Regions from separate parts of the Homo sapiens genome. Here regions 2 and 3 are each reported to be linked to region 1. Evidence: microRNA targets listed by miRTarBase, many of them from high-throughput screens and not tested one by one. Region 1 holds a microRNA gene; each other region holds the end of a gene's coding sequence.
Evidence for each region. Region 1 holds the annotated microRNA hsa-miR-3668 (AAUGUAGAGAUUGAUCAAAAU, at 1,707-1,727, shown strand). A microRNA usually pairs through its seed, bases 2 to 8, with sites in the 3' UTR of a target mRNA and lowers its output. Matches are read on the target gene's strand: a 7mer-m8 pairs with bases 2 to 8, a 7mer-A1 pairs with bases 2 to 7 and ends in A, and an 8mer does both.

Region 2: the mRNA of PTGES3 is a reported target of hsa-miR-3668. Seed matches in the 3' UTR shown: 7mer-m8 at 1,166-1,172.
Region 3: miRTarBase lists FIGN as a target of hsa-miR-3668. Seed matches in the 3' UTR shown: 7mer-A1 at 2,731-2,737.

The regions. Positions count from the first base shown.
Region 1 is chr6:140,203,554-140,206,815 of GRCh38, forward strand. It overlaps MIR3668 (microRNA 3668), which reads left to right and starts at 1,699; the gene lies at 1,699-1,773.
Region 2 is chr12:56,661,535-56,664,796 of GRCh38, reverse strand. PTGES3 (prostaglandin E synthase 3) reads left to right here. Exons shown (of 8, transcript NM_006601.7): 7 at 1-21; 8 at 299-1,448. The coding sequence ends at 318. Among named protein-coding and RNA genes, the nearest start is that of ATP5F1B, 17 kb to the right of the region's middle. RefSeq lists a silencer at 2,965-3,014.
Region 3 is chr2:163,606,759-163,610,008 of GRCh38, forward strand. FIGN (fidgetin, microtubule severing factor) reads right to left here. Exons shown (of 3, transcript NM_018086.4): 3 at 1-3,250. The coding sequence ends at 2,794. Among named protein-coding and RNA genes, the nearest start is that of FIGN, 130 kb to the right of the region's middle.

The DNA.
Region 1 (3,262 bases):
TAAATGTAAAAAAATTTGATTACTGACAGGAGACCAGAGTTAATTGAACTTAGCAGAGAGCAGAGTTTAGTTCTCCAGGCTACAATATTGACAGAAATTCTCAATGAATCATTAAAAAAACTCAAGTGGGGCTGGAGTATGTTTGAGCTGTTGCCAGGCTAACCTTGGAGACCCTTTGTTGTAAAGAATAGAATAGTCGTATCACATGGTAGTGCTGATAAGGTAAAGGAGAGGAGATATTCTTTATTACTGCTGTCAACCTCGTAGAGACAATTGGGAAACATGTTTTTGGTTACTGTGGGTATCTCTTGGGATAGTAGTGACAACTCTCACCATCCAGTTTATTAAATCCCAATAGGAATGTTTCCATCATCTCTTTGCAAAAAAATTGTTAGATGTAACATTTTCCAGAAGTACTGGAAAATTTATTTATGAGCCAAAAATAAGAGTGAAATTGACTAGAAGCAGAAAGTCCCTGTCCAAGCTAAGGAAATGCAAAAAGTAAACAAATGGTATAAATAGCAAAAGAATGTAAGTCTGTGGTTAGCAGTGACATCTGAATGTCCAGTTTAAAGTTTTGTGCTTTATTCCCAACCCTAGTTACAAAGTGAATGAAACTGACACAATATAAATATCTGAATCTTCTGATTCTTCTTTAATTAAATGAACATTCCCTTAATATGTGATTCTGAAATGTTTTGAGATTTCAATGTCAGAAATGATTGTCTGTGTCAAAAGCAACTCATTCTAATTGCTCCTTTTAAGTTCATGTTGCACATAATTGTATGTTCTCTTAACCTAGGCACCCCAAAGAGGCTTTTATTGTGAGTCATAGATTCTCCAATCCTGAATTATGTTGGTTGGTGCTATTAATTACCATTTGAAAAATCATTGATGGGGATGCTTAAGGAAACTTGTTTGATTTAGTTTTGTTTTTGGTCTTAAATCTTTAGGATATTCATTTTCAAATGCAAATGTTCATAACCTAACAGACATGAAATATTTTCAGGTTTCTTTCTACAACTTCTTTGAGTAGAGATTCTCCCAGGTACTGGTTACCTTGAATATTACTGAATAAAGATTTTTTTTAAAAAAGAAATGTTACTATCAATACCATGTAATTTACCTGTTAATCATGTAATATTTTGAAAGTACAGCAACTAACTATGATACTATAATACAGGCATTTTTGTTCTAACACTTTGGAAAAGAGATTAGCATTACGGATGATTTAGATTCATGTTTTGATAGTAAAGGTATCTGTTGAAATATATAGCAGTTCATTTATTTTACATCCTGTATTTAAAATTCTATGATTATATTGGCTCTAATTTTAAAATGTGTTACAAAACTTATAGTACATATCTTTAATTGCAAGCCCTTATTATTTTACAATACCTAATGAAAATGATCAGTTATGCTCATTTCTACACAAGGTGATATAATAAGACACAAAAATGAGTGAAACAGGTGTTAAATCTCTTTCCCTCACACTGGGGTCATCATCTGCTTTTTTGAAGTATATTTTGTACAAAGAAAAAGATATTGGAAGAGAGTCATTGGTAGTCTAAAATTTCTTGCCTGGCTGTATTTTGGAAAAATATTACACTAGTCCTTTCTCCTTTCCTTTCTGTATCTCTTCTATTTATAACTATTTTACAACTATTTAAAAATGTCTTAGAGTTTAACTGGCCTAAAATATATGAAATGTAGAGATTGATCAAAATAGTTTCTATCAAAATAGTTTTGATCAATCTCTGCAATTTTATATATGAGGAAACTGAAGTCTGAAAGTATTATGCCCTTTGTGTCTCTATTTTGAAAGGCAGTGACAAAATTAAGACATATGACCAGCATCTGCTGAACCATGGATCTTTTTTATAACTAACTATATTATTTCTTTTTTTTCCCCAGAAAAGATGATGGCAGGAAAAGCTTAGAATAATATATATGTTTTTTTCTATTCTATCTAATCAATCAATCAGTTTTGTTTCACTGTAACCCTAACCTTTGTCAATGTCATCAATAGCATCGCTTGTTCAGAAAACAAATGAACATTTTTGGAGTCAAAAAGTTAAACTCAAACTCCATCTTACTGATATGGAAGTGCTGGGAAGGGAGGAGCGTGGCTCCTTTAAATGATATGGAAGGGGTGAAGGAAAGTGCTAGGTAGAGGAAGGGCGTGGTCCCTGGCTGGGGCTCCACCCCCACGGACCTAGGTAAGGACAGGCACTCCTGCCTTCATGCCCAAATGTTGTATTTCCAAAGACCACCCTGGCCCACCATGCCCTCATCCTGTGTGTATAAAAACCAAGACCCTAGCAAGGCAGAGAAGAAGCAGCTGGACATTGAGAGGAGCACATCAGCAGAGGAACACACAGGCACAGGATGTTCAGAGGGATGCACCAGCACCCGCATGCTGGCAGGCTACTGACCAGCAGAACAACGTGGAGTTTGGCTGGGGTGGTTGGAGGAGAGCCCGGGAGAGCCCGCGCCTCTGAGTGGCACAACTCCAGGGGAAAACCATCTCCTTTCTGGCTCCCCCATGTGCAGAGAGCTACTTCCACTCAGTAAAACCTTGCACTCATTCTTCAAGCCCACATGTGAACCAATTCTTCCAGTACACCAAGGCAAGAAACCCTGGGATACAGAAAGCCCTCTGTCCTTGTGACAAGGTAGAGGGTCTAATTGAGCTGACATAAGTCGCCTATAGACCACAAACTAAAAGAGCACTCTGTAACACACCCCACTGGGGCTTCAGGAGCTGTAAACTTTCACCCCTAGACTCAGCCCTGGGGGCGGAGCCCCACAGCCTGCCCATCTGTATGCTCCCCTAGAGGTTTGAGGAGCGGGGCACTGAAGTAGCAAGCCACACCCGCATCGCATGCCTGGCGAGGGGACAAGGGAACTTTTCCTGTTTCGTTACTAGATGTATGACCTTTGAAATTTACTTACATGTTCACATTTTAAAATGGGAACTATAATGAATACCCACAGGTGAAATGAGTGATTTTAACCAGTCTCATTTTGCTTAGTCACATGATCCAGATATATCTGTTAGTCATTTAGTGATTTGTTGATTGATTATTCCTGTTTCTAAAAAAAAATCCCATTTGTATTTGATGAAAACTGAAAAGGCATCTTCATCTTCAGTTTTAGAAACTGCAATGGACTGAATGTTTTTCTCCAAAATTTATATGTTGAAATTCGAATCCCCAAGGTGATAATGATATTAGGATGGAGAGTCTTTGGGAGCCCTCAT
Region 2 (3,262 bases), not on the chromosome of region 1:
CACAAGACAGTGATGATGAAAGTAAGTGTATATAAAAAGTATGTTTATACAGTGATACTTTGCATCAAAAAACAAACTCAAAATAGAGATGTTAACTTCTTTGGAAGTAAAGTAATTTTTTCTTTATGACCTTGAATAAATAACCAAAGCAGAAATGTGAATAACTTGATAGCAAGACAACCTATTAATTCATTGGGCAACTATGTATTTCGATTTTTGGTTGCTTTTCCTTTAAGACAGTAAAATTGGTAGATTATTCACTTGTACTATATACTAATATTTTTAAAAATTCTTTCAGAAATGCCAGATCTGGAGTAAGGAATATTGTCATCACCTGGATTTTGAGAAAGAAAAATAACTTCTCTGCAAGATTTCATAATTGAGAGAATTCCTGAGTTGATAGCTCTAAAGGCAGATATGCTGTATTTGCCTACTTTAACCCATTTTTCAACCTGTTTGTTTTTTAAAAGGCTTCACTAAGGGTTGATATGTACCATTGTATGGGGCAATTTTAAGTCAGCTAAGGCAATAACCTTATGCATGAACATTTCCCAGACTTTCATGAAGCTGTTGAGGTCCTAGGCAATTAATGCAGCAGTTGCGATAAATAAAAACATCTCACCTAAGTCTCCTTTTCTTCATAACATAGATACTGACATGATAGGAAGCTCTCAGCTTAGGGAAAGAGAATAAATTTTAGATTATAGAACATGGATTCAAAAGTGACTGGAACAAATTGGCTGACACCTTACTGGTAACCTGCTATTCTTCTGGTGTTATCCTTCAGGATTGTTCCACTAAAATTTATTTTTCAAAAAATTTACTTCACATTATTCTATGTAAGTGATGACTTGTCAGTGTTCCAGGTGTATCTTAGCTAAAACTAGAGAATGCCCTAACTTAGATGGTTTTTGAAGCCTATACAATTGGTATTGTTTGACCCTTAAGCTTTTACATCTCTTAGCATGGAGGACGAAGAAAGCTGTACATTGTTGCTTGAGAGTCTGTACATTTAGTCCAGATTTGTATTTGCACTGTCAGTATGGCAAATGAGTGAAAAATGTTTAATACACTATTGGATTTTTTATTTCCTTTTTTTGATTCAGCTTATACCCGGGCTGAAAACCTCAATTTATGTTCATGACAGTGGGGATTTTTTTAAATGTCTACATTCTTTCTAATAAACTGTTGGAAGACTTCTTGGCTGTCCTTTTAAGTGTCTGGCTTACTGTAATTTTTATGTATTTACCATTTACTGGAATGGAGTTTATTTGAGGAAGAATTTGGGATTATTCCTCTGTTTGAAAAAAGAGGCTTGCTGTAATGTCACAGGAAACCTTTTAAAAGTGGATCTGTAATAGCATATTGTAGATGCACTTTGCAGCAGTTGGAAAAGAAAGTGTTGTGTGATTTGATTGAAATAAAACTAAATGTGTTGTCCTCCTAAATCTTTGAACTTCTGCATTTTGGCAGTTTTCATTCCCTCACAGCTTCTGTATTTGTCATAATGTAGAAACACTATGTATTTTAGTGTTTCTTTGTCAGATATTCAGGACCTGTGTTGCAGGCAGTTAAAGTGCTGGTGATACAAAGATTAATATTTCAGATGATTGCTGAGCTCAGAGAGCTCACAGGCTAGGGGAGACAAACATGAGACAAAAACTTGATGGAAAGTGCGATAATAGATACGCATAATGTATTACGATGTGTAGTTCTTAGCTTCAGGGGGGAAAACATTTTAAAAAAACTTGTTTTTCTTCAAAAAATTTATACTTCAGTTTTGGGAATTAATGATTCACTGGCTTACTGCCCAGCCTTGAAACGCATTATACAGGCCGGCACGGTGGCTCCCACCTGCCTTTAATCACAGCACTCTGGGAGACTGAGGCGGGCAGATTGCTTGAGACCAGCCTGGGCAATGTGGTGAAACTCCCTTTTTTTTTTTTTTTTTTTTTTTTTTGGAGACGGAGTGTTGCCCTGTTGCCCAGTGCAACTTCCACCCTCCAGGTTCAATCGATTATCCTGCCTCAGCCTCCTGACTAGCTGGGATTATAGGCGCACTCCACGTACCCAGCTAATTTTATTTTTAGTAGAGCTGGGTTTTCACCATGTTGGCTAGGCTGGTCTCGGACTCCAGCCTGCCTCGGCCTCCCAAAGAGCTGGGATTATAGGCAGGAGTCACCACGCCCGGCCTGCGAAACCCCATCTTGACAAAAAAATAGCTGGGTGTGGTGGCATGTTCTTGTAATCCCAACTACTCTGGAAGCTGAGGTGGGAAGATCACTTGAGCCTGGGCCATTGGGGATGCAGTGAGCCAAGATTGCACCACGAACTTTTCTGTAGACAAGTGTCTCAAAAGCCGGGCACGGTGGCTCACGCCTGTAATCCTAGCACTTTGGGAGGCTGAGGCGGGAGGATCGCCTGAGATCAGGAGTTCAAAACTAGCCTGGCCAACATGGTGAAACCCTGTCTCTACTAATAATCCAAAAAAATCAGCCAGGCGTGGTGGTACATGCCTGTAACCCCAGCTACTCAGGAGGCTGAGGCAGGAGAATCGCTTGAACCCAGGAGGCAGAGGTTGCAGTCAGCCCAGATTGTACCATTGCACTCCATCCTGGGCTGCAAGTGAAACTCCATCTCAAAACAAAAAGACGGTCTTGCCCAGGCTGGAGTGCAGTGGTGCAATCATATCTCAAGCACCACACCTGGTGGACTTTATTCATATATTTTGTAGAGATGGGTCTCCATGTTTCCCAAGCTGGTCTCGAACTCCTAGGCTCAAGTGATATGCCTGCCTTGGCCTCCACAAGTGCCAGTATTAAGGTGTGTGTCACTGTGTGTCACCTGGCTATAATTTTAAATATTTTGTGTTCAAACATTTGAACAGGTTTTCATCAGTCCTTATTGCTTAGGTATCAGACCTTGTGCGTTGTACCTCATCTCTAATTCAAAGCTTCTGTTAAGAACATTTTCTGGGGCGGGCAAGGTGGCTCAATTCTGTAATCACACCATTGAGGCGCCACTGCACTCCAGCCTGGGCGGCAGAGCGAGACTGTCTCAAAAAATGTTCTGGGCTGGGCGTGGTGACTCATGCCTGGCCAACATGGCAAAACCCCCTCTCAAAAAAAAAAAATGATCAATTTAAGATTGTGAGTGAAATTTTTTAAGTTTAGATGAATGGGTATAGCATATTTTTTGTCCATATTGATAGGTTGTGATATTGGTGCTATACGGTTCCCTAAACTTAGCTATTTCCAAGGAG
Region 3 (3,250 bases), not on the chromosome of region 1:
TCATTTCTTCAACATGCCCAATTTCCTAAGAGATCAAATCTTGGATTTTGTGAGGCTAAATGAAAATCACATACGACTTCAGCTTCTGTCTAAATACATGGATTTTTGACCACTTGCATCTCAAATTAATTTTTAAGTCACTCAGAGTTCTAATTTTTAAGTCACTTAAAGCTAAAAGCCAAGATGTATGACTTCAATTTATTTTCAGTTTTATAAATGAGTGTAAAACACAATAGTGCAGTCATATATTTGGCATTAAATCTTACTAGCCACAAAAAAATGTGGGTCAATATTGGATTTTCCAAAGTTGTCTAAATAAGACTGGGTTTGTCAAAACTTGCCAGACGCTTTCAAGTGAACACAGCATGTTGGCGGAAATGAAATATAATGTCTAAAAGTCAGAAAATAGGTCAGCACTGTGCAAAAGTAAACTTGTCAGTGAGATCAATATGAACCTACAAGTTAATGTGGATATTAGAATTTCCTTACAAGGGATGCACAGGGTAGACCCAGAACACGATTGTAGCATTTATTCACTTGCGAAAAGCAGAGGGCGTATTTAAGTATTATTTTTTGTATCCTTAATGAAAGGCACTGCTTTTTAATATGGAATATTTATATTTAAGCACAGCTTTAATTGACAGAATGTCACAGTAAATTAAATTCTGGTTCAATTGCTCAGTTTTTAGCAACATAAAAAATAAAAAAAGGGGAGTAAAGATCAAGCATCATAAAATTTCAGAGATAAGAAATCCCTCATGAGCTTTCTCTATGTTAAGTGTTTCAGAGAATTGGATATTGTGGATAAGATCGGTAAAAATTTTTGTAAGAAAAAAAAAACAGAAAGGCCTTTCTTGGGGCTTCTCATTGCATTTATTTAAATTTTTTTAAAAATGTACATCACTTATTTATTGAATACATAAAATGCCAGTGCTTTGCAACAGTTTTGTTACTGCATCTCTAAACTAAAAAAAGAAAAGGGGAAAAAACCCAGGAAAATACATTCAAAAGGCCAGGCTGTTCTGCTTATGCATGGGCAGTGGCTGTGGAAAGCTACAGCCTGCTCTGTGACAGTTCAGAAGCATTGCCAAACATCAGCCCACTATCAATGAAAGGTTGCACATAAAGCATTAAAGGATACAAAGAACAACTTGACAGAGAGCAGGAGAAAAATAGGAAATTAAGAAAAATGCCACTTATGCCATGGGTAGGGGTGGGGCTGGTAGACTGAGGTGGAAGTAAGCACAAATGCTGATGTCTTTGGAAACTAGATTTACGGTGAAAGATGGAAGAAAACAAAGTAACATGTTTGGCAAGCTACATTGCAGTGTGTGTGTCCACTTCCAATTTTCTACTTTACTTTCCAAGAGAAATGTAACAAAACTGAGGTAGAAATAAAGCAGGAGCACTACAGCCCAGATTTCAAAATGAGAAGCAAAATTGCACTGACAAGAGTGGAGTCAAAAAGAAGGGGAGGAGATGGAGAGGTTCTTTGTGGATATATATATGTGTATGTAAGTTGGTTTGTTGGTTGGTTTTTGTTTTTATTTATTTGTGTATTTGTTTTGGTTGCTATCCTCTGCATTCTATCAAACAGCACGGCAAGTCTATAAGCTAGATTAGTGAATAGAATGACACCATTCCCAGCAGTTTTAAGAGATAACTTGCAAACTACCACCACCATCACCACCACTACCACCTATGCAATAAAAAGGCAGTCATAGTTTTTAGGTACTGTGACTTTCAGGGTCCTAAACAGGTCTTGTGGCTGACAGGTCTAGACACTAACACAAACTGAATAAGTAGCTTTCAATTAACCAGTGTACCTTTTAAGAACATTTTCACTTAATTATCAAGGAGCAATGTACTAAGAACTCTTGCAGTTATTGACATAAAGAATTATTCTGCTCTGGTTAATTCCCCATAATTAGTAAAAGAACTTAAAAAAATCCTTCCATTTCTACTTTAAACTGTAAATATTCAGTTGTATCACACTTCAGTATTTTTCTGGATACATTCAAAGTAATTTTCCTTGCTATTTTCCAATTGTTGAGGTAAACATACATTTTAATATAAAGTAACATTGAAGCCTATCCTATTACTCTCAGCAGTACATAGTGCTTTCAACACATTCCTTTGAGGTACTGTACAAATCACAATCACTTTCCTGAGTTTTTGCAGACAAGAACATTAAAAGAAATGAACTGCAGAAATTAAGGTCCAGATTACCGTTACCCTGTTTTACCTGTTCTTAGCTTAATACTGCAGAACAGACAGGATTGAGGAATACTGTTGCTCTTAAAATGGCAAAAATCTGGTTTTCTGTCATAACACAACTGTTCATCTCTTTAGTCCAATAATGTTTGAAGTTAAAGCTCTTTATATTAGCACATGCCACCAATGTAATTGTGAGGCAAACAAAAAATAAAGCACCACTCCAGGCACTTGACAGCAACTAAATCTCGAGAACAGCAGAATGGAATCAACACACGAGGTTCATGTCCTTCTGAAATCAACACACTTGCACCTTGCTCCTTGGTGAGTGTTGTCTAGCTTGAACAGAACTGAGCATCCACATATGCTTTCTGTCATCTGGGGCTTTCAAATCAGAAGCTCTCATTTGATGCACTTTTCCTCCAAATCTACCCTGACTCTAAAGATGCAACTTAATCGTCATCTTCCCCAGTACCCTTTGCAATTTAAACTCTACTGGAAAGGGGCTCTATTCCCTATGTAGCAGGTTTTATGTGTGTGTGCCAACATTCATTACATTTTTTTTTTCTAAAGAAGTTATCACTGACTGCAACCAAACATTTTGTTCCATTCAACATACATATCAAGCTCCTTTTGAGATATGCTAGGCTGAATCTTGCAGAAAGCATTTTCAAAGTCTTGATATGTAACGGGCCTCAACTGGCTGGGCATAATGGCTGAAAGGTCTGTGGCTGGCATGGCATGGAGGGGGCCCACCACTGCTTCCTGACACAAATGAGCCACATCTAGTCCAGAAAAGCCTTCTGTGCGCTGGACGAGCAGTGCAAACTCCTTGTCATTGAGACAGTAATTGTGCTGTGAGAGCAGTTGTACTATTATCTGGTGCCTCGCTGTGCTGTCAGGAAGTGGGATTAAAAGTCGTTTCATGAAGTACCTCCGAAGGGATTCATCTATTTCTTCTGGTTTACTGGTGGCACAAATTACTACGATTTGGTCCTCAGCCGAAGTTAGTACAGTGTCCAGTTGCATCAGAAAT